Regions from separate parts of the Homo sapiens genome. Here region 2 is linked to region 1. The links come from fine-mapping of genetic effects on gene expression. A gene starts in region 1. The other region holds a variant in brackets. All regions are shown on one strand. Distances are from middle to middle. Region 1 holds the start of MRPS23 (mitochondrial ribosomal protein S23). Region 2 has its middle 38 kb from the start of MRPS23.

Region 1 (15,722 bases):
CTCAGGTGAGATTTAATTGAAGGACACTGTTGCTCTAAAGCGTAGTCCGAAATTACCATCACTCTATTTATTGAGTAGTTACCATATACCGGGCACTGTTTTAAACACTTAGCAGGTATGAACCCACTGGTGCCTCACTACAAACCCTCTGCTAGGTGCTATGATTATCCCCACTTTACAAATGAAGCTGAGGCCCAGAGGACTGTAAAAGAGAACTATCTGTCAGTGAGGCACAGAGGACAGCCAGACCGGAAATGCTCACGATGTGAAGTGAATGGTGAGGTAGGGGATTATTTCCATTCACCCACAGCTCTCTCCCTATCTGTGTATCTGGGGAAGGCCTCAAAGGAAAGCTGGGCCTGGGAGAGAGGGAGGGCTGGGTATGCACAGGCAGTGAAGGGAAGGCTGAGATGACAGCATCCTCATTTGTCCTAACTTGGCTTTATTTATCCATGCTGTTCACTGGAAAACTCTGAGAGCTGTGGGCCAAGCACCAGGCCGGGTGTGGGGAGGCAGAGCTAAAAGTCCTAGTTCCTGCCCTCAAAAAGGCCCCTGTAGCCAGACTCAGACAGGTAAACAGAGTTACAACACAGACATAGCCCTGAAAGAGATAAGCATAGGAAGGGAGGGAGCAGGTCTGGGCACTCACCCGATCTTACCGAGTGTGTGCTGGGGGCTGAAAAGCTTTTCCACCTGAACTGATTCTTGACAGTTCCTTGAAGCCTAGGAAGGGGGTCTGAAGGGGAGCTCTCAGGAGAGGGGCACAAGCCCAACAGCCGGAAGGAAAGAGAAGGTACTCTGACTCCCCCCCCCCTTTTTTTTTTTTTTTGAGATGGAGTCTTGCTCTGTCGCCCCAACTGGAATGCAGTGGCACGATCTCAGTTCACTGCAACCTCCGCCTCCTGGGTTCAAGCAATTCTCTTGGCTCAGCCTTCCAAGTAGCGAGTAGCTAGGATTGTAGGTGCCAACCACCATGCCTGGCTAATTTTTAAATTTGTAGTAGAGACGGGGTTTCATCACGTTGGCCAGGCTGGTCTCGAACTCCTGACCTCAAGTGATCCACCCACCCCGGCCTTCCAAAGTGCTGGGATTACAGGCGTGAGCAGCTGTGCCTGGCTGCCTCCTCCTTTAATAGCCCTCCCTGCCCTTCATCCTCCTGGTCCTCAGACTCAGGAAGCCTACAATTCTTTTTTTTTTAACGGATCCTGATATAATCCTCTCTCTCTTTTTTTAGAGAAAAGGGCTCACTTTGTCACACAGGTTGGGGTGCAGTGGCACGATCATAGTTCACTGCAGCTGCGAACTCCTGGGCGCAAGCAATCTTCTTGTCTCAGCCTCATGAGTAGCTAGCACTACCAGCTTGTGCCACTGCACTGGCTAACTTTTTTCTTTCTCTTCTTTTCTTCTTCTTTTTTTTTTTTTTTTTTTTTTTTTTTTTGTAGAGACAAGGTCTCGCTATGTTGGCCAGGCTAGTCTCAAACTCCTGGCCTCAAGTCATCCTCCCGCCTTGGCCTCCCAAAGTGCTGGGATTACAGACATGATCCTCCACAGCTGGCCTGACATAATTCTTAAACTGTGTATTGAATATACTGTATTGCTTTCCTCCCTTTAAAGCTAATTGCTCCCTGATTTTAGCTGTCATAGGTGAGTAGCAGCATTCATGATTTCATCAGTGTGCTGGGAGTTTCACTTACCAAAGCTGTTCCACTACTGGGGATGATGCTCTTCCTCATTTTGTCTGACAAATTCCCACACAATATTTATTTATTTATTTTTGAGACGGAGTCTTGCTCTGTTACTCAGGGTGGAGTGCAGTGGTGCAATCTCAGCTCACTGCAACCTCCGCTTCCTGGGTTCAAGTGATTCTCCTGCCTCAGCCTCCCAAGTAGCTGGGATTACAGGTGTGTGCCATGACACCCGCCTAATTTTTTTTATTTTTTATTTTTTATTTTATTTTTAGTAGAGACGAGGTTTCGCCATGTTGGCCAGGCTGGTCTCGAACTCCTGACCTCAAGTGGTCCACCCGCCTTGGCCTCCCAAAGTGTTGGGATTACAGGCATGAGCCATCACGCCTGACCTCCACGCACTATTTAAATACGGGCATTGTCACAAAGATGTGGGCAGAGTGATGGGAAGCCACAAGGGATGGCCTAGACCCCGTGGCTAATAACAGAGGGGTACAGCTTGCCAACTACGTCTAGGCTTGAAGGAGCAGGAGAGGGACGGTGGCTGGAACCTGGTGAGAGAGCTGTGATTTTATGTTCTAGAACTTTATGTTCCAGGAGGGAGCCCGCTGGCAGTACCAACTGGAATCCAGCCAGAAGCAGAGGGCAAGGAGCTGGTGGATGCAGGCCACAGAAGCCAGCCTCCCGAGGCACAGAACAGGGCGAAGGACGGCAGAGAGTGGGTGTGGAACTGCTTGGGCAAATGGGAACTATTCAGCACTTACTGATCTATGTTAGGGGCTGAGCTGTGTCTCCCCAAAAATCATATGTTGAGGTCCTAACTCCAGTACCTCAGAATGTGACTATAATAGGAGGTAGTCTTTAAAGAGGTAATTAAGTTAAAATGAAGTCAGTAGGGTGGGCCCTAATCCAATAAGACTGGTGTCCTCATAAGAAGAGATTAGGACAAAACCTTCCCACACAGAGGAAAGACCATGTGAAGACGTGGGAGAAGAAAGCTGTCTCCAAGGCAAGGAGAAACTAGCCAAGTGCAGAATAAACTAAACTTGCAGACACCTTGATCTTGGACTTCTGGCCTCCAGAATAGGGAGAAAATAAATCTGTGTTTAAGCCACCCACTTTGTGTGCAAGTGGTGTTAGGGCAGGCCTAGCAAACTTCATACAATCAACAAGCTATTCAGCACATAACTTAATATTTATGTATTTACCTCTCTGTCTTCCCTACTGGACCGTTGGATTCTCTAAGACTCAGAATAGTCAGGTAGGTGTTTATATGCTTCTGGAACGAACGGATCATCTAACAAGAAAGTAAAACAGTAAGGCAATCTATGAAATATTATCAAAATGCTGCAGTCCAGGTGGCAATGGGTGGATGACACAGCACAACAGCAATCGTGTTGCTGTTACAGCCATCAGGCTTGTTGCTGCTCACAGGCACTCACTATGTCCCAGGTGCCGTGATTAGTGCTTTACATGAATGATCTCTTTTACTTTTGCAACAAGCCACGAAGATAGTTGACACTGCCATCCAGATTATTATTATTATTATTATTATTATTATTATTATTATTTGAGACAGGGTCTTGGCTCTGTTGACCAGGCTGGAGTGCAGTGGTGTGATCATGGCTCACTGCAGCCTTGAACTCCTGGGCTCAGGCCATCCTCCCACCTCAGTCCCCTGAGTAGCTGGGATTACAGGCATGCACCACCACACCTGGCTAATTTTGCCCAGGCTGGTTTTGATCTCCTGGCTTAAGCAATCCTCCCACACTGGCCTCCCAAAATGTTGGGATTACAAGCATGAGCCACTGAGCCCAGCTCCACATTTTAACAGTTGGAGAAACAGAGGCTCGAAAAGTTACATAACTTGCTCAGAGTGAAGCAATTAGTGGGCACGTCTACAATGAGACAGTGGGATTAATATGAGGCCGAGTGGTGTTGTAGGAACATGGCCTTTGGGAGTTTACAAGCACCACTTCCTTATCTGTAAGATTAGCAGGACATTACCTATGTCAGCAGGTGGTTGAACAACTGAATGAGACACTTGAGGTTCCTTGGTACCTCCCGCGGCACAGTGGTGCGTGGTGTAAGTGCCCCAGGCCCTCACAGCCTTGGGCGGCTGTGGTCCCCACTCAAGAAGACAGCCTCAAATGTCCATTCTGCCTGCCCCCTGCTGCCCGACAGCTTGCTCCTGTATTATGAATGAATGTTTCTTGGGTGTGTACTTCTTGTGTAGCCTCAGAAGGCTGTTATCCCCAAAGTACCCCCAAGTCTGCCCACCAATATTCTGCTCTCAGTCACAGAAGCAGGCTGGAAAGGGAAACTTCAAAGGCTTGGAAGAGGAAGGGACCACCCCAAGATTAGCGAGAACATTTCTGCCTTGCAGTTCTTCCCCTATTGAGGGTTTGCGTCTTTGGTTCCCCTCCTTGATCTTGGAATAAACCCTTTAACTCTTTAGCTGCAGTGACTGCACTAACCTACAGTAGCAGTTCCTGGTGGGAGAAGAGAAGTGTGCCTGTAATCTGGGCTGGCAGATAGTGCTTGCTGGCTGGGACAGAATTAGAAAGTTGTTATGAGGCCTGGGAAGACTATATTTAGCTGGGAGCATGTTTACTCTCCCCAGAGCAAGGTCTTTTAGACCTCCTGAGGGCTGGGATACTAGAGCCTTTACACCTGGCCTGGGGCCAGAGCTGTGCTCTCTCTTCTCTGTTCCAGAGGGTCTGGAGGCAGCAGTGAAATCCACCTCAGGTTAGCCCTGGGCCTCAAATCACTGGATCCCTGGCGTGCGTGTGTGTGTGTGTGTGTGTGTGTGTGTGTGTGTGTGTTGTGGGGGGGGCGGGTGGGGAGCGGCGTTCTGCTGGACTCTTGAGCCTACCAGCCTCGAGCTTTAGGCATAGCTTAGGCGGCATTGTGAGGCACTGGAAAGGGCCCTGGCTGCCCCACCCCCCCAAGGCTGGCTCTATCAGTTGCTTATCAGACAAGTTATGTAACTTCCTGAGGCCTTGCTTTCTCATCTATAATGAGGATGTTAATAGCTACCTTATGGGAAGGTATGTGGATTCAGTAAGATAACACACACAAGCAGTAACTACTCATCAAACAGTCCCGTCCTCCCCTTCACCAGCCTCAGAGTGGGAGGACTCTAGGATGACTTGACTAGGCTCCCAGGAGACATTGTGTGTGATTCAAAACATTCATTGGATTAAAAGTTCAAATATGAATACAATCTCTTTACAAGTCAAACTCTGAAGCATGTGTAAAGGAAGAAAAAATTCTCCCTTGCCTGCCTGCAGTTTCACTCCGAGATATCCAATGTTCACAGCCTTGGGTGTCCTTCTGCAGAATTTCTATCCTCAAACACAAACATATATAGAGGTGTTTCTTTTTCCTTTTTTTTTTCTAACACGTTGAGATTCCACTAAACATGTTTCTTTGCAACTTCGTTTTTCATTTAAACATAAGTCATGTACCTTAACCTTGGTAAATACATGTGGATCTAGCTCATTCATTTTAATAGCTGCATAGGGTTCCAAAGAAAGTATGAACAATAATTTTCCAGCTATTTCTCATCTGATGGATTTTTTTTCCCACTACAAACAATGCTGCAACGATGATCCTTGCACAAACATCCTCATGAATTGATGCTTTAATTTCTAAGGGGTTCTTTCCCCGAAATATGATTACTGGGTCAAAGGGTATGCTACACACAGTTTATATTTTTTTACAGTTTAACACTGAGAGATGACTTTCTCCAGATTTTTTCGTTTCCCTCTCGGCGTCTGTTTGTTCCGGACACTTTCACTTTTCGAGTTCCAAGGAGGAGGTAGCCCGCGACACCGGCCGCGGGAAACACGAGTTGCAGCCAGCATCCTAGTTAGCGTGGATGCAGGTGGCACTCCGGGGACGAGGGGCTTAGTGGGGAGCACTACACAGCCAGAGGCGGAGGCCCGAGATCTAGCACGACGCTGGGCAAGTGACGGCCCCTCCCCGGCCTTGGTTTTCTTCTGCGTAGTCTGTGACTCTAAACAACATTAGGCTCAGCCTGGGCCTAGAGCTGGTGACCTCAAATCTCGGCCTTTGTTGGCTCCCCTAGGACTGTAGGCTGCGCTTCACCCCTGCTCTGCCCCACTACTTCTCCTCCGCGCGGCCCCACCTTTTCAGAGGAGTTGGCTCAACAAGGCGAGAGAGAGTAAAGCAACCATCATGATGAATCCCTCCCACAGCTCGGTCATTTATTACTTCTGTCCGGCTTTGGCTCGCTCCTGCCCTTTTGGCTCGGCTATCGAGTGCTCCTGCCTGAACCTGGCAAGTAACCTCGGAGCGCGCCCGTTCGGCCTATCACTTGCTTCTGCCTGCGCCGCTCTCCCGCAGGGGCTGCGGTGAAAGCCCAGCGATCCTTGGCTCGGCCAGCAACTTATGCGCCCTTTACCTGGAGCAGCCGCTTCCGGTTCCGGTAGCAGCTAGTCACGCTCGGTACCAGGCGCAGATCATGGCAGGCAGCCGGCTGGAAACCGTAGGGAGCATCTTCTCTCGGTGTGTGCTCCCAGCCGTGGTGGGCTGAGGGTGCCTCCCCCAGGCTGGGGTTCTCAGCCGGTCACGCTCTTCCTTGGAGCGGACCTGAGCAGGGCGAGGCGTATTGCAGGGTGCGGGGGCTGAGCTGGGTGAGGCCCTCTCATGTTTTCTCCTGGCTCCGAATAGTTGTGCCTGAGGATGCCTCTCCTTGAATTTATGTGTCATGTTAAAGATTATTGCAGCTGCCTCTCCCCGAGTGGAGGTCTCTAGGAAGAGGAAGGGAGGAAGAGCCTGATGGGCCTTCCTTATCAGGTCATGCAAGACCGCTCTTTGCATTTTTCCGTGACCGAACGTGGGTGGGACGCACAAAAGAAGATAGAGGGATTTAACTCTCCTGAGCGTTGTTAAGTTTGGTTTGGGATGTGGACAGATCTTCTCTGTAGGTGGGGAGCAGTCCTTCCCCGTTCTGTGTTGCAGACCGCATAATACCTTTAATGTCCCAAACTGTGCTAGACTGATTCAGGGGCTTTGGCAGGCTACTGCAAGTGACCCAGTTTCGTTCTGTTCCCTCCCTAAGGACTCGGGACCTGGTTCGGGCCGGGGTGCTGAAGGAGAAGCCCCTGTGGTTTGACGTATATGACGCCTTTCCCCCGCTGAGGGAGCCCGTCTTCCAAAGGCCTCGAGTGCGATATGGCAAAGCCAAAGCTCCCATCCAAGACATCTGGTACCACGAGGATCGGATTAGAGCGTGAGTGCTCAGCCCTGTAGTGGACAGGAGGCAACAGAACTTCAGAAGGGAAGGTTTCGGTAGCAGTCTGGGAATTCAAACATGAAATTGAGTCAGGGGTTTGCCCTGTGGAGAAGGCTTATCTAGCCAAATTAGGGAGGCAGCACCCCTTCCTCATAGTGAAACTGAAGTTCTGAAAAGTGGAATCTGGAGCCCAGCAACCGAAAGATCATTGCAATTATAGCCGCATGTTTCTGGGCATCTGCTTTGGGCCAGGCACTGTACTAAGCTCTTTGCAAGCATTATCTCATTCTCTAAAGGCCTTACTCTAACTTGTAAGGAAGGCATTCTTGTTTCCATTTTATTCAAGGAGACTGCGAAGCTCAAGGAAATTAGCTAACTTCTTGTAATTACTAAATATATAGGAGGGTGGCAGATCTGGGAATCACATCTCTGACTCCAAGCTTATGGTGATCATTATGCCGGCCTTCTCCACGAGTGGAGATAGGAGGAACGTGGTCTGTGGATCTAGTAGTCCGGCTCTTTGAAGCCACTCAGATGAAAGGATGCTTGAAAGTCTAAGAGAGGCCGGGTGCGGTGGCTCACGCCTGTAATCCCAACACTTTGGGAGGCCAAGGCGGGCGGATCACCTGAAGTCAGGAGTTCGAGACCAGTCAGACCAACATGGTGAAACCCCGTCTCTACTAAAAATACAAAAATTAGCCGGGCATGGTGGTGGGTGCTTGTAGTCCCAGCTACTCGGAAGGCTGAGACAGGAGAATTGCTTGAACCTGGGAGGTGGAGGTTGCAGTGAGCCGAGATCCCACCACTGCACTCCAGCCTGGGCGACAGAGAGAGACAATCACTAGGAATTTGAAGGAAAATCATGTGTTCTTTATTTTTTTTTAGCATCCCTTTTCTCTTTTTTTTTCTTTTTCTTAAGCTCAGTGGCAAGAATACTTCCTCTTTTATTATAAAAGCAACACATGCTACTTGTAGAAAATTTAGATACACAAAGAAAGCATAAAAAGAAATCACAGGCTGGATGTGGTGGCTTGTGCCTGTAATCCTAGTGCTTTGGGAGGCATAAGGGAGGATAGCTTGTGCCCAGGAGTTTGAGACCACCCTGGGCAACATAGCAGGACTTGTCTCTACCAAAAAAAAAGTAGTTGTCTTAGTTTACACTCTGATTAGCAGTTTCTGAGAGTTCTTACTTTATCCTTGTCAGTATTGATAATGATTATTTAAGAATTTTTTTTTTCTGGGCCAGGCACGGTGGCCCACGCCTGTAATCCTGGCACTTTGGGAGGCTGAGGTGGGCAGATTGCCTGAGCTCAGGAGTTCGAGACCACCTTGGGCAATATGGTGAAACCCTGTCTTGACTAAAATACCAAAAATTAGCCGGGCTTGGTGGTGGGCACCTGTAGTCCCAGCTACTTTGGATGCTGAGGTGGGAGAATCGCTTGAAACTAGAAGGTGGAGGTTGCAGTGAGCTGAGAGTGCACCACTGCACTCCAGCCTGGGCAACAGAGGGAGACCCTGTCTCCAAAAAAAAAAAAAGTTTTGTTTTTTTCTGATCTAAGTATTTTTTTTTTTTTCGAGATGGAGTCTCACTCTGTCTCCCAGGCTGGAGTGCAGTGGCGCAATCTCGGCTCACTGCAAACTCTGCCTTCCGGGTTCATGCCATTCTCCTGCCTCAGCCTCCTGAGTAGCTGGGACTACAGGCGCCCACCACCACAGCTGGCTAATTTTTTGTATTTTTAGTAGAGACAGGGTTTCACCGTGTTAGCCAGGATGGTCTCAATCTCCTGACCTCGTGATCCGCCTGCCTCGGCCTCCCAAAGTGCTGGGATTACAGGCGTGAGCCACCGCGCCCGGCCTCTTTATTCTCTTTTTTTCCAAAACTTAAATAGTCACAGAAAATGTGCTCCTAATGGTTGCCTAGGAACATTCTTTTTTTTTTTTTTTGAGATGGAGTCTCGCTCTGCCACCCAGGCTGGAGTGCAGTGGTGTAATTTCAGCCCCATGCAACCTCCACCTCCCGGGTTCAAGCTGTTCTCCTGCCTCAGCCTCTTGAGTAGCTGGGATTACAGGCTCACGCCACCATGCCTGGCTAATTTGTATTTTTAGTAGAGATGGGGTTTCACCATGTTGGTCAGGCTGGTCTCAAACTCCTGACCTCGTGATCCGCCCGCCTTGCCTCCCAAAGTGTTGGGATTACAGGTGTGAGCCACCGTGCCCGGCCTCCTAGCAACATTCTTAAAAATATCTTTAAAGTTCTCTATTTTTTCTTTTTTTTATTTTTTATTTTTAATTTATTTTTATTATTTTTTATTTTTTATAGTATTTATTGATCATTCTTGGGTGTTTCTCGGAGAGGGGGATTTGGCAGGGTCATAGGACAATAGTGGAGGGAAGGTCAGCAGATAAACATGTGAACAAGGGTGTCTGGTTTTCCTAGGCAGAGGTCCCTGCGTTCTTCCGCAGTGTTTGTGTTCCTGGGTACTTGAGATTAGGGAGTGGTGATGACTCTTAACGAGCATGCTGCCTTCAAGCATCTGTTTAACAAAGCACATCTTGCACCGCCCTTAATCCATTTAACCCTGAGTGGACACAGCACATGTTTCAGAGAGCAGGGGGTTGGGGGTAAGGTTATAGATTAACAGCATCCCAAGGCAGAAGAATTTTTCTTAGTACAGAACAAAATGGAGTCTCCCATGTCTACCTCTTTCCACACAGACACAGTAACAATCTGATCTCTCTTTCTTTTCCCCACATTTCCCCCTTTTCTATTCGACAAAACCCCCATCGTCATCATGGCCCGTTCTCAATGAGCTGTTGGGTACTCCTCCCAGATGGGGTGGCGGCCGGGCAGAGGGGCTCCTCACTTCCCAGACGGGGCGGCCGGGCAGAGGTGCCCCCCACCTCCCGGACGGGGCAGTGGCCGGGCGGGGGTGCCCCCCACCTCCCTCCCGGACGGGGCGGCTGGTCGGGCGGTGGCTACCCCCCACCTCCCTCCCGGACGGGGCGGCTGGCCAGGCGGGGGCTGCCCCCCACCTCCCTCCCGGACGGGGCGGCTGGCGGAGCAGGGACTGCCCCCTACCTCCCTCCCAGACGGGGCGGCTGGCTGGGTGGGGGCTGCCCCCCACCTTATTTTTTTCATACAAAAAAAAAAAACAAAGATGTCACACTTCTTTGGGACTACTTTTCTGTTTTCATGTTTCCCCTTTTGTGTGCCCTGAATTTTGTTCATACTGCCCCTGTTGTGGCCTTAGCCTGTCTTTAATAGCTCTACATTCCAAATGCCCTGTCTTTATTCAATAACAAACATTCATTAAGCACTGTCATGGGCCAGGCATTGTCAAATTCATTCTTGTAACTTCAGTGCCTAGCCCATTGTGTGGCATATAAGTTGCTTATTAATCGTCTCTTGAATGAAGAAGCTAATGGATTAATGGACAGATGAACTATGAGGCTGGTAGAGAGAAACGAAAGAAAATTCCTTGGAGAGGAATGGTGGAGGGCCAGGACTGGGACTGTTTGGAGAATGGCCATCAGAATTTTATTAGTTTTCTGAAACAATTTCAGGAACAGTGGGCTAGAAACCACTTCTATGGCCACATTTAGCATCCCTATACATTTATGTAAGATCTAAGTAAGTGGTAAATCTCTCACTGGGAGTTTACTGACAAAGCCCCTCCCCTTGAATACTGATGTTAATTAGCTTTTAGTACCTTGAATTTGTCTAGTTCCTTTTTCTCTTAAATATTTATACCAATGAGTGTGCCTAATTGACTTTGATACACATCCCTTATTCTTACTGTTGTTTCAGGATGCTAGAAAATGGAATTTATAAGGTCATTATGTTCCGAATTGGGGCCCAGGCTTTCACCCCGGGACCCCCAACACCAACACTCATTTAAAGTAGCAGAACAAGTATGTTCTTGTTCTACTTGGATATTTTCGGCATACAACATGAGATCTTTGAGGAGATTAAATGCTTTTTCAGCACCTTTCTTCTCAGACCCATTGCATGCACTTTGTGGTTCATTGATACATTAAAATCATTTGTGCTTTGCTCTCACATGTAATCCTGGCACTTCAGGAGGCCGAGGCGGGTGGATCACTTGAGGTCAGGAGTTCGAAACCAGCCTGGGCAACATGGTGAAACCCCACCTCTGCTAAAAATGCAAAAATCAGCTGGGCGTGGTGGCATGCACCTGTAGTCCCAGCTAGTCTGGAGGCTGAGGTGGGAGGATCGCTTTAACCCAGGAGGCAGAGGTTGCAGTGAGCTGAGATTGCACCATTTCACTCCAGCCTGGGTGACAGAGTGAGACTCCGACTCAAAAATAAATAAATAAATAAAAAATTTAAAAAATCATTTGTGCTTCTGCTGTAGATTTGGACTGGATGATAAATGATTGGAGAATGTGGAATAGTTTACTTGTCCCTCTTGTTAAATATTACTTTTTTTTTTTTTTTTTTGAGATGGAGTCTTGCTCTCTCTCTCTCTCCCAGGCTGGAGTGCAGTGGTTCAATCTCAGCTCACTGCAGCCTCCACCTCCCGGGTTCAAGCATTTCTCCTTCTCAGCCTCCCGAGTAGCTGGGATTACAGGCATGTGTCACCACGGCGGGCTAATTTTTTTTTTTTTTTTTGTATTTTCAGGAAGACAGGGTTTCACCATGTTGGCCAGGCTGGTCTTGAACTTCTGACCTCCAGTGATTCACCTACCTTGGCCTCCCAAAGTGCTGGGATTACAGGCATGAGCCACCATGCCCAGCCTGTTAAATATTATTTCTTTAAATTCTTTTTTTATTTTTTAATTTTTTACTATTGTCAGAATATATAAAAATTATTTCTATTAACACCAAAATATTATCTTGTATTTATATAATTTATTGAACCTTTATCTTTGTGGCCCTCTTTTTTTTTGGTGGTTTTGATATTTAAAAAAGCTTATAGAGTGGTTGTGCATGCCTGTAGTTCCAGCTACTTGGGAGGCTGAGGAAGGAGGACCATTGGAGTCTAGGAGTTCAAGGTTGTAGTACACTATGATTGTATCTGTGAATAGCCACTGCACTCACAACAGCCTGGCAACATGGCAAGACCCCATCTCTTAAAAAAAAAAAAAAGAAAAAGGAACTTACAACAAAATAAATAAAACAAACAAAAAAGATGTATTAAAATCTAAGTGTAAAAAGTGAGATCATAACAGTACTGGAAGAAAACATGGGAGAATTAAAAAAATAATCTGAGTGATAAAGGTCTTTTTAAGCATGATATAAAACTCAGAAGCCATAAAAAGAAAATATTAAAATTTTCTGTATAAAAAAGTACTGTAAGCAAAATCAAAAGACAGCCAACAAACTGGGAAAGATCTTTGCAATGTTATGACAAAGGACTAATTTTCTATGTATATGGCTACAAAGTTTGCTTAGAAATCATTAAGAAAGAGACCACTGTGTAACGAATTACCATAGACCAGGTGGCTTATAAACAAATGAAATTTCTTTCTCATAGTTCTGGAGGCTAGGAAGTCTGAGATCAGGGTGCCAGCAGGGTCAGGTTCTGGGGAGGACTGTCTTCCTGATTCCTCACATTGAGGGGAGCAGAGAGTGGTAGCAAGCTCTCTTCTATCTCTTATAGGGGCACTAATCCCATCATGAGGGCTGATTACCATGACCTGATTACCTCCCAAAGCCTCCATCTCTAAATACCATCACAATGGGGATTAGGATTTCAACATAGTAATTTTGGTGGGACACGTTTAGTCCATAGCAACCACCAAATAGAAAAGCGGACAAAGAACTTGGACAGTTCACAGAAAAGGAAATTCAGTTTGCTTTTAAACTTGAAAAGATGTCCAGTCTCTTTAAAAAGAAAAGCAAATTAAAACTATAAAGAGTTCTGGTTTCTTACCTATTAGGTTGGCTAAGATCAAAAAGTTGGAGAACATGTGTGTGTGTGTTTGTGTATTTTTTTTTTTTTTTTGAGGCAGGATCTAACCCAGACTGGGATGCAGTGGTGCCTATCATGGCTTACTGCAGCCTTGACCTCCTGGACTCAAGTGATCCTCCCACCTCAGCCTCCTGAGTAGCTGGGACTACAGGTGTATGCCACCATTCCTGGCTAATTTTTAATTTTTTTTGTAGAGATGGTGTCCCACTATATTGCCCAGGCTGGTCTTGAACTCCTGGCCTCAAGTGATCCTCCTGCCTTGGCCTTCCAAAGTGCTGGGATTACAGGCATCAGCCAGCACGCCTGGTCTAAATATATATATATATTTTTGCTGGGATTACAGGTGTGAGCCACTGCACCTGCCTCGTGTGTGTGTGTGTGTGTGTGTGTGTGTGTGTGTGTGTGTGTGTATATATATATATTTTTTTTTTTTTTTTAGAGACAGGGTCTCAGGTCTCACCATGTTGCCCAAGCTGGTGGTGAGCTCCTGGCCTCAAAAGATCCTCATGCCTCAGCTTCCCAAGCAGGTGGGATTATATGCGTGAGCCTCTATGCTCAGCTGGAGAATGTCATTTGGTCAGGGTGTGGGGAGATAGGTGCTCGTATATTACCTATGTGAATGTAAATTGGTACAGCCACTTTGGAAAGCATTTTGGCAATTTGGAAGGCTTAATTACAAATGCACATACCTTGATCCAGTAGTACCACATTTGTGAATTTATGCCACAGACTTATTTACGTAGTGCACTAAAATTATAAATAGAGATAATGATTGCAGCATGGTTTAGAGTAGTAAAGGACTGGAAACAATCTCCATGGCACTGATAAGGCAAGATGTAGGGAGGAGAAATGGGGAGTGACTGCTCAGATACAGTGCCTCCTTTTGGGGGTGATGAAAATGTTTTGGAACTTGATAGAGGTGCTAGTTGCACAGCTTTGTGAGTTTTCTACATGTCACTTAATTGCACACTGAAAAATGTTAAATGTGGGCTGGGGACAATGGCTCATGCCTGTAAGCCCAGCATTTTTGGAAGCCAAGGTGGGAGGATCTCTTGAGGCTAGCAGTTCAAGACCAGCCTGGGCAACATAGTGAGACTGCATCTCTACAAAAATTTAAAACTTAGCCAGGCATGGTGGTGCTGCGAACCTGTAGTTCCAGCTACTCAGGATGCTGAGGCAAGAGGATTGCTTGAGCCCAGGAGTTTGAGGCTGCAGTGAGCTATGATCACAGCACTGCTACCTGCGTTGGTGACACAGTGAGACCCTGTCTCTTTGGAAAAAAAAAAAGTTAATTTTATGATGTGTGACTTTTACCTCAGTTTTTATTATTTATTTTTATTTTGTTATTATTTTTTGAGACGGAGTCTCATTCTGTTGCCCAGGTTGGAGTGCAATGGTGCGCTCTCCACTTACTGCAACCTCTGCCTCCTGGGTTCAAGTGATTCTCCCACCTAACCCTCCCAAGTAGCTGTGACTACAGGCATATGCCACCATGCCTGCTAATTTCTTTGTATTTTTAGTAGAGATGGGGTTTCACCATGCTGAACTCCCAGTTGCAAGTAATCTGCCTGCCTCAGCCTCCCAAAGTGCTGGGATTATAGGCATGAGCCACTGCGCCTAGCCATACCTCAGTTTTTAAAAAGGCAAGATGTAGAGCAAGGTTTACTATTCTTGGGGTTAAAAATGTGGCTGGGGACAGGGAATGATAGTGCATATATGCTAGTATATTAGTGGAATATTTCTGGATGGATATACAAGAAATTTGTTAGTGTTGCTTCCTGGGAAGGGAACTGGGGGGCTGGGGTGCAGAAGTGGGAGGGAGTGTTACTTTTCACTGGCCACCCTTTTGTGCTATTTGATGTATTTACCATGTGCATGTGTGCATTACTTATCTAAAAAAACAAAACTGTTCAGCTTAGGCTATGTGGGTTATACCGTACTTAACTCCTCAGTGCCTAGCACTTATTCTTTATTTCTTTTATTCCATTCTCATCCACAGTCTATAATCGGAGATTTATATTATGTTGTTTGCATTTTCTAGGAAGTTTTATTCAGTGTATGGGTCTGGTCAAAGAGCTTTTGATCTATTCAATCCAAACTTCAAGTCTACCTGTCAACGGTAAGCCATTTTATAAGTCCTAGGCTATTCATATTATTTTTTAAGGATTTTGTTATCCATTTGATATTGTGTAACAGCGTCTTAACAATGCTTACAAACATACCTAAAATGTGACTGCTTGGAATTACAGGTTTGTGGAGAAGTACACTGAGCTACAGAAACTTGGAGAAACAGATGAAGAGAAGTTATTTGTGGAAACAGGGAAGGCTTTATTGGCAGAAGGTGTCATTTTAAGACGAGTAGGCGAAGCAAGGACTGTGAGTATTTCATTGTTAAAATTGTTACTGGGTTTATAGTTGTCCCTCAGTATGCACAGGGGATTGGTGCTAGGGCCCCTGCAGATACCAATATTCACAGATGCTGAAATACCTTTTATAAAGTGCTGTGGTTTTTGCATATAACCTACACATATCCTCCCATATACTTTAATCATCTCTAAATCATTTATAATACATAACACATTGTAAATGCTATGTAAGTAGTTATACTCTATTTTTAAAAATTTATATTTTTTATTTTATTTATTTATTGTTAAAATATTTTTGATCCGTGGTTTGTTGAATCTGCATATGTGGAACCTGTAGATGCAGAGGGTTGACCAGAGTTGCCAATCTGATGGAAGTTAAAGAGAGACTTGGTTTTCTTTCCCTAACCTTGGCTTATGTTCTTAAACTCCAGGTCAAATACTGTTACACTGAATATACTAGAATTTTGTGGTAA
Region 2 (15,722 bases), 36 kb after region 1:
CTAAAATCAAGGCCATCTCTTTGTGAAGGGTAGAAATCCAGGTGAGATAAGATTGATAATCCTGCATTACAGAATTTATTAAAGATGTCCAGATTAAAAAATTAGGTTGTCTGTCAATCAATCAGTCTGTTTTCTACATTTTTCTCTGTCATATACAAAAAATATTCCTGTATAACACTGAATTCCCTGTGGACCTCATCAATGCTAATAGCCCTTCCTCTTTCATTCAGAAGGACAAGCTTAGTCATGTTTCCTAGCAGAGGTCCCTGGGTTTGTCCAGTCTTGCTGAAGCCTTCACTATTACTATGGAAAGTTTTTTCAGTTATTTGGTTTCAAGTGGGGAAGGACGGCACATGAATGGACGTGACCATTGAAGTGTGGTATAGGCTGCATTCTTTTTCTTTTGGGTAATTTCCTTTAATCCCAGTGAGAGGGAACAGGTTGGAAACAACCAACCTGAAGACCAGTCAAAGGCTCAACTGTTGATTGGCAGATCACTGTGTAACTGTTTGGGTCCCTTGAGTCAGGGGACTGAGTCAGTATCATTTGTGTTTCCCAGTATCTCAGCCTGAGATTGGGAGATGTCTGAGGTTGGGCTCCCTGGAAACAGACTCTGAGATAGAGAGCTGCACGCAGAACATTAATTAGGAGTGTTCTTGGGAGATGTACTTGTAAGGGGGCAAGGGAGGCAGGACGGGGCAGAGGGAGTAGCTGCCCCACAATGTGCTGGCCATGGAGACCTCAGTTAATTCTACAGGGAACTCTGGAGCTGGGATGGCCCTCCAGAGCTGTCCTACTGTGAGAGAGCTGGGCCTTTGCATCCCCCATCAGCCAGTCATTGACTAAGGCTCTCCCCCAGGAGGGGATGTGCCTTGGGTCATGCATTTCCCAATGAGGGATGAACCTCTGAGCCATTAGCAGCCCCTATTCTCAGTAGCTAGGGGATGGGTGTGTGGGCCCTGAAAAGGGATCTGGGTGGGCAGTGTCTGTGACAGATGACCCTTCAAGTGGCTCAGAGTCACTTGTTTCTTGTAGTAAGTTTGCCCCATCTCTGATGGCTTATTTATGATTGTAGTGAGTTTTGCTTCCTGGGGAAACTGACAAGAGAAGGGTTAATGGGACAGACACAGACTCTGATGCTGCATTTGATCTCAAGGTTCTACCTGGTACTCCTTATGCCCCTTCTCCACCACCTGTACCAGAGTCTTCCTGCCCTTGGCTGGCATCTCTGCTGGTCTAAGAGACTTGTTGGGTGGGATGACCTGGACCCTCATTCCTGAGGGTTCTGACCACATGGATACCATGCTCTTTTCAAGACCTGGTTGTTGTACTTGCCCATTATCATTAAAATGGGTATGGAACACCAAGAAATGCCCCAGTGGATTATCCAAATGCCAAACGTATTCCTCCCTGCCTCCACCGACTGGCAGCAGCCCCAGCTCACACTGCCACACTGAGCTGACCCTTCTATGAACTGAACTTGGCCTTTTGCTTCTGCTGTCAGCTGGCCGTAAGGAAGCCCTCATGCAGCTATAGGTGATTGCTGAGGGCCAGGGCCCAGGGAAATATTGACACATGACATGGGAGCCTGGGCTACCTGCCCATGCAGCTTCCGGGTGCCGATCCTAAATGTACCGCTTCCATCGAACGACTGATTGCTACTGGGCTTGCCTGCCCTCGTGACTCTGTGGATCTGACAGATCCAGTTCATGATGGGGAGCTACAGTTGTCTGGTTACTTGGTGTCACTTGGTCAGAAGCCTCATCTCTACCAGGATCCAGTAGCATTCTGGGAGCTACTTTTCTTTTTCTTTTTCTTTTCTTTCTTTCTTTTTTTTTTTTTTGAGATGGAGCCTTACTCTGTTGCCCAGGCTTGAGTGCAGTGGTGAGATCTCACTGCAAGCTCTGCCTCCTGGGCTTAGACCATCCTCCTGCCTCAGCCTCCCAAGTAGCTGGGATTACAGGCACCCGCCACCATGCCCAGCTAATTTTTGTATTTTTAGTACAGACGGGGTTTCACCATGTTGGCCAGGCTGGTCTTGAACTCCTGACCTCAGGTGATCCGCTCGCCTTGGCCTCCCAAAGTGCTGAGATTACAGGCTTGAGCCACCGCGCCTGGCCTGGGAGCTACTTTTCAATGGGTGTGTAGCTTTTCTTGCAGATGGCATGCCCTGCTTCAGAACTCTAGGAATCTATAATATTATTTCCTATTGGTGTTCACCAGAAACTCCATGTGGTGTTTCTTCCTCCACAAAAAACACAGAGCCTTTAGGACCACAGAGCCTGCCGAGTCACACAGCGCGGGAGGCAGGGCTTTCTGACCACAGCCTGAACCTGCTGCAGAGCCCTTTCCTGCTCTGGGTCCCATTCAAAGCTGGCAGCTTTCTTTGTTACCTGCAGGGTTAGAGTACTGTTCCACAGTGTGGACTGTGGCACCTCCAGAACCGATGAAACCCACCAAGCATCATAGTTCTTAATTCATTGTGGGAGCTGAGGCTCTGGAGCTCTGGATGAGGGGATGGCTCTTTTAGAGTTCTTCTAAAGTGATATAAAAAAAAAAAAAAGTAGGTGTTTTCATCCCTGCCTCAGCCAGTCCTTGATCATAGACGTCCCCCCTGGAAGGGGTATAATATTGGGCAGGGAAGTTCCTTGTGGCCAGAGTAATTCTCAATGAGGGTTGTAGCTGTGAGCTTAGTCCCCAGAGCTGGAACAGGTGAAGAGGGGATCTGGGGAGGGGACCACAGCATTTGTGACACACAACCCAACTCCAGGGCTAGGACTAGGGTGAGGCAAGTGAGACACCTAGGAACAAGTGTAGCGAGTCCCTCACACTTGGGTCATGTGAGTGCAGATTCAGCTCTTGCCTCACCCTAGTCCTGGGCCTGTCAAACACCCATGGGACCCTAATAGCAGGAAATGGTAGGAAGTTCAGTTTGGCTAGGAGAAACTTCATATCTCCATGAAGACAGTCTCTTTCTGGAACTGGTAGAATGATTTGTTGGACAGCATTGTCCTAGACTATTTCCTTTCCACTTCTCTGCAGGGGACCGGGAAGGTGGACACTAGAGAAAGGTGTCACCTGTCACTACTGCCAAAAAATTCAAAATACCTTTCCTATCCCATCAGTTATTCTATGACTTTATTTGTCTGAGCCCCATGGTCATCTTTGTGTTGTGGAATGAAGTCAAAGGAGGGAGTTTAAGCTAGAAGATTTTGAAATTTCCTTCTGTTATTATGGCATCGAAGATATTGTCTAATCCTGATCCTACTGGCCAGCTTCCATGGGTAGAACCAGCCTGGAAGCATCAGGTCTCACCGGTATGAGGGGGTGGATTACACAATGGTCAAAAGAGAGAAGACCAGCCATGCCATTCTGGGAGAGAAGGAGATGATTCGAAGGCTAGAGAAACATAACTCATAGGCAAGTAGGAATTAGAGTTAGAGCTTGTCTGAATGTTTGTGTCTCACCAAAATTTATATGTTGAAACCTAACCCGTGAGGTGATGGTATTAAGAGGTAGAGCCTTTGGGAAGTGATTAGGTTATGAGGGCAGCATGAATGGGGTTAGTCCCTTACAAAAGAGGTGGAGTGGCTGGTTGAGGTGGCTCATGTCTGTCATCCCAGCACTTTGGAAGGCTGAGGTGGGTGATCAGGAGTTCGAGACCAGTCTGGCCAACAAGGTGAAACCCTGTCTCTACTAAAAAATACAAAAATTAGCCTGGCATGGTGGTGGGCACCTGTAATCCCAGCTACTTGGGAGGCTGAGGCAGGAGAATCACTTGAACCTGAGAGGCAGAGGTTGCAGTGAGCTGAGATCATGCCATTGCCCTCCAGCCTGGGTGACAAGAGCGAAACTCCATCTCAAAAATAAAAATAAAAATAAAAATAAAAGAGGTGAAGCCTGTTTCCCCCTTCTGCTGTGTAAGGATGTAGCAAGAGGTGCCATTTATGAAGAATAGGCCCCCACCAGGCACTGCATCTGCTGGTGCCTTGATTGTGAACTTCCCAGACTCCAGCACGGTGAGCAATAAATTTCTGTTGTTTACAAATTACTCAGTATAAGGTATTTTGCTGTAGCAGCCCAAATGTGCAAAGACAGAACCCAATGGGAAGAGAGAACAGGAGTTGAATACAGAGCAGGCTGAGTGAAGTAAGACATGAGTGTGGGGCTGGATCATTCCTAGACTGAACCTGAGCACACTGAATTCTGGTCATGGCATCCAGGGTATGTGTGGGCATCCATGGATAGTTTTGTCTTTCAGAAACTTGGACCACCTTTCCCAACTTAATATATACAACTAAAACATTTCTAATCAGATCTCATTGCAGTTTTTATTTTTAACTTAGCAACTTGATAATAAAGTTTAACTGGAAGGATAAAATTAGCCAAAATAAAAATTTGAAATATAAGCATATAATATTATGTATATAATACTAGCTATCAAATGTATTATAAAGCAACAACCATGAAAACAGCATGGTACATGTATAGGAATAGGCAATTAGACCAGGGGAATATGTACAACAGGGAGTCTAGAAAAAAATCTGTGTATATATGATAATTAAATATATGACAAAAATAGCATTTCACATCAGTGAGAAAAGGATGGTTTATTACATAAACAGGGAAAGGTTGTGAATTTCAGAGAAAATTCAAATTTGGTTCCTGTGCCCGTTTTCTGGTTCCATACCTGAAATAAATCCGAAATGGATTAAAGGCTTAAAAATAAAAATTAAAACAATAAAAGTGCTAGAAAAAAAATAGGTCCTTTTTGAGCATGACACAAAAACCAGAAGACAGCAGGAAAAGAACAACAGTCCTAACTACATAAACAAACAAGCAACAATAACAACTTCTATATGGTGAAAAATGTCACAAACAAAAGTTAAAGAATGGAAGAAAATATTTTAAACATACGTAACTGATAAAAGTATAACATCCATAATATACAAAAATGTCCTACAGATCAGTAAGAAAAAGAAATACCATAGATAAATGAACACAGGTGACATCTGGGCAAGTCACAAAGAAGAAACACATATGGCATAGAAAGCATGAAATGATACTCTAAATTAGCAACAAAATACAAAACAACACAACTAAAACCAAGAGGAGATGTAGTTTCCCTATCAAAATTAGCCAAAATTAAACAGATTGCTAGTACTCAGTGTTTTGGAAGGATACAGATAAAAAGGCATCCATAGCTGACAAAACTAAGACTTGCCATAACATTTTTGATGAAGAGCCTGGCAGTTGCAGTCAAATTTAAAATACATTTTCCCATTGAGCCAGAAATTATGCTTTTAGGAATGTGTCATACGGAAACCTTCTTCAAGAGAGAAGAGATGTATGCCTAAGTGTGTTTACTTAGCATTCTTTGGTATAGAAAAACACTGCAAATAGTCCTTCAGGGTAACAGAGGTTGGTTAAGTTGTAGAAAATCCATACAATGGAAAACTATGAGAAAGAATAGCTGTGCAGACATGGAGCTATGTCCACAACAAGCTGTTAGTTTTTTTAAAGAGTAAACTGATGAATGGCACATAAGGCAAAATTCTATTTTTTAAAAGAAAAAAAGGTAAAACAGTAGTTAAAAATGTAAGCTATGATTGTAGTTTTTGTTTGTTTGTGTGTTTGTTTGTTGAGACAGAGTCTCTCTCTGTCAGCTAGGCTGGAATTCAGTGATGTAGTCAGGGCTCACTGCAGCTCTGAACTCCTGGGCTCAAGCAATCCTCCTACCTCAGCCTCCTCAGTAGCTGGGACTACAGGTGCTCACCACCATGCCGGGCTAACTTAATTTTTTTTTCTCTTGTAGAGACGGGGATCTTACTATGTTGACCAAGTCAGTTTAGAATTCCTGACCTCAAGGCAGGATCCTCCTGCCTTGACCTCCCAGTGTTGGGATTATAGGCATGAGCCACTATACCTGGTGTACTGTATATTTTTTTTTTTTGAGAGAGGGTCTCATTTTGTCACCCAGGCTGAAATGCAGTGGTGAGATCCCGGCTCACTGCAGCTTCCACTTCCCAGGTTCAAGCAATTCTCCTGCCTCTGCCACCCCAGTAGCTGGGACTACAGGCATGAGCCAACACACCTGGCTAATTTTTGTATTTTTTGTAGAGGCGGGGTTTTGCCATGTGGCTCAGGCTGGTCTTGAACTCCTGACCTCAAGCGATCTGCCCGCCTCAGCCTCCTAAAGTGCAAGGATTATAGACATGAGCCACCACCCGTAGAATTTTTAAAACACATTAAAAGTAAAGAGTATAGTGTAATGAAACTCCACATCTCATCACCTGGTTGCAAAAAATATATATATATACATATATATATATGTATATATATATTTTTGAAATGAAGCCTCACTCTGTCGCCCAGGCTGGAGTGCAGTGGTGCGATCTTGGCTCACTGCAACCTCCGCCTCCCAGGTTCAAGCAATTCTCCTGCCTCAGCCTCCCGAGTAGCTGGTATTACAGGCGTGTACCACCACGCTCAGCTAATTTTTTTTTTTTTTTTTTTTTTTAGTAGAGACGGGGTTTCACCATGTTGGCCAGGCTGGTCTTGAACTGCTGACCTCAAATGATCCACTCCCCCCGACCTCCCAAAGTGCAGGGATTACAGGCGTGAGCCA[G/C]TGCGCCCGGCTGGTTGCAACAATTTTAAGCTCTTGGCTATTCTTTTTCCATCCCATTCATTGTCTCCTTCACCCATGGATTAATGTGAAGCAAATCCCATATACCCTATCATTGTACCCATAAATAACCTTGGAGCCATTTTCACATTTAAAGGATGGCTCAGGCAGAGAAGAAAGGCTCGGAGGATATACACCGAGTTGATGTCAGTGATCATCACTGGGGAGTAGGATTGAGGAGCATGAGTTTTTATTTTAAACACTTTAGATTACTAAATATATAATTTATTTTTGCATTACTTTGTTTTTTAAAAAATTGAGATTTGTAAGCAAGAAAGTGAGAGGCTGGGTGAGGTGACTCACGCCTGCAATCTCAGCAATTTGGGGGGCCAAGGCAGGTGCATTGTTTGAGCCCAGGAATTCGAGACCAGCCTGAGCAACATGGTGAAACCCTGTCTTTACAAAAAAATACAAAAGTTAGCCAGGTCTGGTGGTGCGCGTCCATAGTCCCAGCTACTTGGGAGCCTGAGGTGGGAGGATCACTGGAGCTCAGGAATTCGAGGCTGCAGTGAGCTATGACTGCACCACTGCACTCCAGCCCGGGCAACAGAGCGAGACTCTGTCAAAAAAAAAAAAAAAAGAAAGAAAAAAAGAAAAAAAAAAGAGAGAGAGACCTCACCAACTATCCTTTTTGTCTATATAGAAACCCCTTTTAAACTCTAAAAACAGCAAACAGAATTATTCTTACTTGATTTTTTCAAAAGCCACCTCAAATCTTTTATGGAATGGTTTGGGAATTCATCAACAAATATATTAAAACTTGAATACACAATCAATACCTAGAATATCACGTTTAGGTCAAGTTTTTGACAGTCGAGTTGCAGCTTTTATATGTGCGTGTCCTGTATGTATATTATAATATAGGGAAGTGCTTACACATCAATCTGTACATGTATGACTGTTTTATAGAATTAGCTCAGTAGCTCACCTGCAAAGTTTCCAGAGGAAGAATTTGATTGGCCCACCTTGGGTCAGCTATTCACTTCTGGCCCAATCAGCTGTCACCAGGGGCAGGGGAAGGCAGGGCATCTGCAGACTGAGTGGACTTCTCACTTCTACTACTTGCTGTACATGCCTAGCACCAAGTCGCCCCTAAGCTCCTCTTTAACATCACCTGTGAGTCTGGGCTCCTTGTTCAAGGACATGCCCCACACATTCAGCGTGGAGGCCTGGAGTTGTTCACAGCACGGGCCCTGTCACTGCAGACCATGGGCGAGGGCCTCCTCCTTTGCCTCCATTTCCCTGCTCTGCTCCTCCTTTGCCTCCATTTCCCAGACCAGCAAGCACTATTTTCACGACAGGGCTCCTCAGCCCTTCCCCTTGACCTTGGAGTTCAGCCCCCCGGGTGTTTCCTTACAGGCATCGCCTTCCTGCTCAGGCCCATCTCCCCTCACCACAGGCCTCTCCACAAACCCACTCGGATATGAGCTAATGCCATTATCTTCCTGAAATTAAAATCAAGCCTCAACCTATAAAGTTTCACAGAGAGGGAATTGGGGTTGTATATTCCTGCGTTGAGCGGTATTCTATTTCAGTCATAGCATTTAATTATGATCGGTATGTTAGTGCCCATCGGAGCATAACAAATTGTCATTATGTTATTCTGCTGAGTCTAATTTAATTGGCAAGTTGTCACAAAAGCAATTATCCATCATTTATTTTGTTGCCATAACCACATCTCGAAGAGCACCTGCTGTCTGCGAGGAGAAATGCGCCACAGTCTCTCAGCCCTGGATCCAGGCCACTTATCTGACAGAAAGACATTGCTTCCCCCTTCTGATTTAAAAATATGTTCCTCATTTCCTGCTGCGGTCTCATGAATCCTCCTGGGGGAGCCTCAAAGTGCCAAAGGAAATTCATAGTCTGGGAAGTTGCCCGAGAGGTCTGCCCCGCCCTGTCAGGGGTGGGTGGGAGGCAGCGGGAGGACGCAGACCCCCGTGGAGGGCCCGGGACCCGACTGGGTCAGGCTTCGCTCCGTCAGCTGTTTCAGCGCCACCTCAGTGATGGATTTATAAATATTTGTTGCTCTTTTCTCCCCGGACAAGCCGCGTGCTCGCTCCCTGGGAGGCAGGATTGTTTGGCCACTTCACAGAGAGAGAACCCGAGGCCCAGGGAACCGAAGGCCCCCGGTCACGAGGAAAGTCTGGAGAGCGGCCAGGACCCCAGTGAAGACCTCCGGAGTCCAAAGGCTTTTTCCACTCTTTGGATCAAACATGTGCAGGCAAAACCTAGTTACTTTAGGCCTGCCAGAGTCCCAGACTGTGCCTCTGGGTGCAGGGGGGGACTGTCGTCCTAGGGCTAGATCTGATTGGCCCCATTTCACATGGAAGCATCAGGCTGAGAGCTCATGATAGCGTCTGGGACAGCGACTGCCCAATCTCCCTGGAGTCTCTGAGCCTAAATCTCTGGGAGGCCCTTTTATCCTGCTCCTACTCGGGTGCCTCTCCGTGCCTGGACTGTATCCCCCACACCCACAGGCAAGCCAAGGCAAGCAACATTGTCATACGATTTTTTTCTTCCCTGAAGCAAGGAAGATAGTCAGTCCTAAGGGACGATGAAGCCTCCAGGTCTGTCTCTGTCCTGGGGGCTGGAAGTGGGTGAAAAAATTATTGATGTTCTTGCTTCCATGATGGTCTTTTTAGCATAGTCACCAAAGAACTCGTTAAAAACACAAACAAAATAACAAACAAAAACACCACCAACAAAACAAACCAAAAACCTACCACTGTATTGCAAAGGGGATAAAGGAACCAGACTTTTAAATAAACCAGCTTTTTCTTTTGGGTCAGTCAGGTACAATTTCCAGGCTTTCTATTTGAGGGCAGTGGAAGATGACCAGCTCCCTGAACAGGCAGATCATCTCTTGCAACTCCAACAAACAAACAAACAAACAAACAAAACCCTCTCATTGCAATTGCTGATAAAATAAACTAGGGATGTTCAGACTCCTCCCTCCTGGACCAGCATTATCCCTAAAGAATGTTCCTTGTGGCTACAGAGAAATCACTTTTTCTACCACAACGCAGTGTTTAGGATCTCTGCTTACTGTGGAGGGCCCCACTTGAGCCTGAAGTTATGCAGTCGATATTGGAGCAGGAAAAAGTTGAATGTGCAAGGAGGGGACTGTGCATGTGTCCCCTGCCGGGCCCAGTTGTGGCAGAGGGTGGTGCTCTCCCACGTTGTGAGTGAGTGTGTAGATTAGTGCAAACTCTGTGGAAAGTAAGCTGGCTAAATGAGTGAAGAGCCACACAAAATGTGCGTCATTTTTGACTCATTAATTTCATTTAGGATAAACAAATTTCATCAAAAACAGAGGAAAGATGCTTGCTCTAGTTTTATTTATTTATTTATTTTTGAAATGGTGTCTCACTGTGTTGCCCAGGCTGGAGTGCAGTGGCGTGATCTCAGCTCACTGCAACCTCCACCTCCCAAGGTTCAAGTGATTCTCCTGCCTCAGACTCCTGAGTAACTGGGATTACAGGCGCCCACCACTGTGCCTGGCTAATTTTTTTGTACTGTTAGTAGAGACGGGGTTTCCCCATGTTGGCCAGGCTGGTCTCAAACTCCCGACCTCAAGAGATCCACCGCTTCAGCCTCCCAAAGTGCTGGGATTACAGGTGTGAGTCACTGCACCTGGCTGGCTATAGTGTTATTTATAATAGCGAAATCAAAGTCTGTGCTAAAGAGCAAACTGACTTGAAGCACACGGCTACAAGCAATGGGTATATGGATGGAGTTCGGTTTTTGTTTTCTGGGAGAGATGTTGAAACAAGAGGAATTCTTTTTTTAAAAAATAATTTCCACTTTTGTTTTATATTAAGGAGATACAGGTGCAGGTTTGTTACCTGGGCATATTGTGTGATGTGGAGATTTGGGTATGATTGATTCCTGTCACTCAGGTAGTGGGCATTGAACGCAAGAGTTAGTTTTTCAACCCTTGCCTGCCTCCCTCTCTCCCCACTCTAGTATAGTCCCGTGTCTATTGTTATCATCTTTATGTCCGTGAATACCCAAGGGTTAGCTCCCACTTATAAGTGAGGACACATGGTATTTGGTTTTCTGTTCCTGCGTTAATTGGTTTAGGCTAATGGCCTCCAGCTGCATCCATGTTGTTGCAAAGAGCATGATTTCATTCCCTTTTAGTGATTCATAGTATTTCTTGGTGTATGTGTACACCATTTTCTTTGTCCAACCCACCATCGATGGACACCTAGGTTGATTCCATGTCTTTGCTACTGTAAATAATACTGTGATGAAAATAATTTATTTTTGAGGCACGGTCTCTTCCCTCTGTCACTCAGGCTGAAATGCAGTGGCATGATCATGGCTCACTGCAGCCCTCAACCTCCTGGGCTCAAGAAATCCTCCTGCCTCAGCCTCTCATGTAGCTGGGACCACAGGCATGCACCACGATGTCTGACTAAATTTTTTTTATTTTTAATAGAGATAAAGTCTTGCTATGTTGCCCAAGCTGGTCTTGTTACTCCTGGGCTCAAGCAATCCTCCTGCCTCAGCCTCCCAAAGTACTGGGATTACAGGCATAAGCCACCGCGCCTGACCGAAAGGAATTCTTTATGTAATTTCATTAAGTAATCATTTCTGAACACTTCAATTTACTGGAGCCAAGTTATGCATGTATGTAAATACAGATGAGACGTATGCACATATAGGTCCCTCCTATATTAGTTTCCCATTGCTGTTGTAACAAATTACCTTCCATTTAGTGCTTTAAACCAGTGGTCCCCAACCTTTGTGCCACCAGGGACTGGTTTTGTGGAAGATAGTTTTTCCATGGATGGGGATGGGGTGGGGGGAGATGGTTTGTGGATGAAACTGTTCCACCTCAGATCATCAAGCATTAGATTCTCACAAAGCGTGTGCAACCTAAATCCGTCGTATGCGCAGTTCACAATAGAGTTCACTCTCCTATGAGAATCTAATGCCACCGCTGATCTGACAGGAGGCAGAGCTTGGGCAGTAATGCTTGCTCGCCTGCCACTCACCTCTTGCTATGTGGCCCGGTTCCTAACAGGCCACTGACTGGTACCGGTCCACTGCCTGGGGGTCGGGGCCTCCCTACCTTAAACAATACTAATTGTCTTATGGTTTTCTGGGTTGGAAGTCCGAAATGGGTCTCCTGGGCTAAAATCAAGATGTTGGCAAGGACATGTTCCTTTCTGGAGGCTCTGGGGAGAGCCTATCTCCTTGCCTTTTCCAGCCTCTAGAGCCCCCCACATTCCTTGACTTCTTGCCTCCTTCATCCATTCTCTTTTTTATGTTTTTGAGACGGAGTTTCACTGTGTTGCCCAGGCTGGAGTGCAGTGGTGCAATCTCGGCTCACTGCAACCCCCACCTCCCAGGTTCAAGCAATTCTCCTGCCTCAGCCTCCTATGTAGCTGGGTTTGCAGGCATGTGCCACCACACCTAGCTAAGTTTTGTATTTTTAGTAGAGATGGAGTTTCACCGCGTTGCCCAGGTTTGTCTCCAACTCCTGATCTCAGGTGATCTGCCTGCCTTGGCCTCCCAAAGTGCTGGGATTACAGGTGTGAGCCACCACGCCCAGCCTTCCTCCATTCTCAAAGCCAGCAACATTGAGCCAAATCCTTCCCACTGTGTCACCCTGACCTTCTGTAGTCACATTTCCCTCTGACTCTCTGCTTCTGTTCCACTTTGAAGGATCCATGTGATTACATTGGGCTCACGCCAATAATCCAGATCATCTCCCTGTTTTAAAGTCAGTTGGTTAGTGACCTTAAGTCCAGCTGCTAGCTTAATTCCTTTTTGCCATGTAACAAAACGTATTGACAGGTTCCAGGGATTAAGCTGTGGACATCTTTGTGCGTGGGGGTGGGTAAGGGGAGAGGGGCATTATTCTGCCAATTACACTCCAGACTGACCAGAAGCCCACAGTTGAGTGGGAGAAACACATGAACACATCTTCAGCATACGTGGCAGAGTGCCATAATCAGCTCTTGGAATCTGGGAGGCAATATGCATATTTATCCATAATTCAGAAATTCCTTGCCGGGAGGCTAGATGCTGTCCAACTCAGTTTTCCTCCTCTTCCCAGCACAAACTCTCTGCTCTGGTCACTTCAGTCCCTCCACTGTTTCTAGTACTTAAATATTATAGAATATTATGGAGGTATTGAAGAATCCTGGCTACGGGGGAGGCTGACACAGGAGGATCACTTTGAGCCCAGGAGTTTGAGATTCCAGCGAACCATGATTGTGCCATTGCACTCCAGCCTGGGTGATGGAGCAAGACCCTGTCTTTAAAAATAACACCCATACTTTTGCCCATTGCCCTCTTACCAGCTGCCCTCACTTCCTCTTACCCTCTGTCCAAATCCCACCCACCCTTAAGTCCCACATCCAGACTTCGCCCACAACCAAGACCCAAATCAAGTCCCACATTCTCCCTGATTCTTTCCTGTGCCCCCCGCACATGCAGCCCAGGCCTTCTGGAACACGTGCATTCTCAATGACATAATAGTCTACTTAAATGTAATTGCTTTCACAGGCTGTTGTTTCAATGTTAGTGCGTTCTTATGTCTCAGCTAGTTTTTGATCTCTCTGAGATCAGGGGTCATGTGCTATAATCCATCTGTCACCTCCACAGCACCTGGCACAGTGCTGCTGAAGAACAATTTGCTAAATTTGTTCAAATCCTTTTTTGAATACTCTCAGAGGGGCTAGATCCTGAGGGTGGAACTGTGCTTCAGGGAGTGTCCTGCTCTAAAGGAGCACTCAGTCTGAAAGGGAGACTGACAAGAAACTGATGGGTCAGGGGGTGATGTGACGAGTGCTAGAATAGAATTATGCACAGAGGGGTCTCCAGGTCAGCTTGTGGGTGGATCAGAGAAGGCTTTTCAGAGGCAGTGATGTTTGAGCTGGGTTTTGAAGGATGAGTAGGAGTGAGCTGGCTAAAGGGATATGGGAGAAGGGTTCTATTCCCATAAGAGGAGGACCATTTAAAGCAGAACAAAGAGTATTATAGATGCCAAATGCTGTCCAACTTGGTTTTCCCAGCCTCCTAGAGCAAACTCTTCTCTTATGACTTCAGCCTCCTCTCTGTTCTATGGTCATGGTCTGCCTCTTCCCAGTCCCATATCTTTGACGGTTAAGTTAGAAAAAATGGTGAAAGTTGACATTCACGAGTGAAGCTGAGAAGGAAGGGACAAAAATCATCAAGTCACTCTGAGTCAAAAGACTAATGATAATACACACAACAGACAAGAAACAACATTCCTAATATGTAACCTGATAAGAAAAAAAGACAAAGCTTTTAAAAAATGGACAGAGCACATGAACAAACTTTTTTTTTTTTGAGATGGAGTCTTGCTCTGTCACCTAGGCTGGAGTGCAATAGCGCAATCTCGGCTCACTGCAACCTCCGCCTCCCAGATTCAAGCAATTCTTGTGCCTCAGCCCCCCGAGTAGCTGGGATTACAGGCATGTGCCACCACACCCTGCTAATTTTTGTATTTTTAGTAGAGATGGGGTTTCACCATGTTGCCCAGGCTGGTCTTGAACTCCTGACCTCAGGTGATCCACCTGCCTTGGCCCCACAAAGTGCTGGGATTACAGGTGTGAGCCACTGTGCCCAGCCTATGAACAAACATTTTACAGATGAGAGAATACAAATAGCTGATAAGTACATGAAAAGACACTCAACTGTATTTGTAGTCAGGGAACTGCAAGATAAAACAACAATTAATACCATTTTCAGTCATCAGATTGGCAAAAATTAAAGATTGATAACATCCAATGTTGTCAACGGTGTGAGTAAACAGGGACTCTCATACATTGTTAATGGATATATGAATTGCTAAACCCTTTTAAGAAAGCAATCTCAAAGTGAGTATTAGAATTAAAAATGAACACATCCTAGCTGTTGGCATACATCTGTAGTTCTAGCTACTTGGGAGGCTGAAGTTGGAGGAGTGCTTCAGGCCAGGAGTTTGAGACCAGACTGGACAACATAGAGAGACCTCATCTCTCCAAAAAAAAAAAAAAAAAAATTAAATTAGTCAGGCTTGGTGATGTGTGCCTATAGATCTAGTTACTTGGGAGGTTGGGGTGGGAGGATCACTTGAATCCAGGAGTTTATGGTTACAGTGAGCTCTGATCATGCCACTGCACTCCAGCCTGGGCAATGGAGTGAGACTCCCCTTATCTAAAAAAAAAAAAAAAATCCTTTGACACAGCAATCCCAATATGAGAATGTATTTTAAGGAGATATATACATATAATATTTATTGCAAGGTTGTTTCTAGTAGCAAAAGCTGGATAGAATCTGAATTTCCATTAATAGGGGAATGTTAGGTAAATTATAGTACTTAAATATTATAGAATATTATAGAAATATTAAAGAGTGCATTAAACCCATACATGTTGACCTGGAGGAATCCCCATGGTACCATGATATAATGTTAAGCAGCAAAAGCAAAAAGCAATCAGCAAGGACAGTGTCATAGTGTGTGAGGGGGGAGGGAGAGATATATGGGGAATGGTTGTATACTATTAAATGATCTCAGAGAAAGATACAGAAGGCTGCATACTCTAGGATGTTAACAGTCATTACCTGAAGTGACAGCAGTGGGAGCTAAGGAAGGGAAGACTTTAACTTTAGAAGTCTGCATTGGGCCAGGTGCAGTAGCTCAGTACTTTGGGAAGGTAAGGCAGAAGGAGTTTGAACCCAGGAGTTCAAGGTTACAGTGAGCCATGATTGCACCACTGCACTCCAGCCTGGGTGACAGCATGAGACCCTATTGCTAAAAAATTAATTTGTAATGACAAATATTGGCCAGGTGCAGTGGCTCACGACTGTAATCCCAGCATTTTGGGAGGCCGAGGTGGGCAGATCATGAGGTCAGGAGTTCGAGATCAGCCTGGCCAACATGGTGAAACCCCATCTCTACTAAAAATACAAAAATTAGCCGGGCGCGGTGGCTCACGCCTGTAATCCCAGCGCTCTGGGAGGCCGAGGCAGGCAGATCACGAGGTCAGGAGATCGAAACCATCCTGGCTAACAT

Evidence for each region.
Region 2: its variant is fine-mapped to the expression of MRPS23 in whole blood (TOPMed, PIP 0.94).

The regions. Positions count from the first base shown.
Region 1 is chr17:57,840,463-57,856,184 of GRCh38, reverse strand. It overlaps MRPS23 (mitochondrial ribosomal protein S23), which reads left to right and starts at 6,141. Exons shown (of 5, transcript NM_016070.4): 1 at 6,141-6,218; 2 at 6,775-6,945; 3 at 14,925-15,002; 4 at 15,133-15,259. The coding sequence starts at 6,175. RefSeq lists enhancers at 5,646-6,155, 5,831-6,160, 9,346-9,953.
Region 2 is chr17:57,804,106-57,819,827 of GRCh38, reverse strand. No RefSeq gene overlaps it. Among named protein-coding and RNA genes, the nearest start is that of MRPS23, 38 kb to the left of the region's middle. RefSeq lists an enhancer at 8,315-9,201. The variant G/C (reference allele first, on the strand shown) is at 6,629.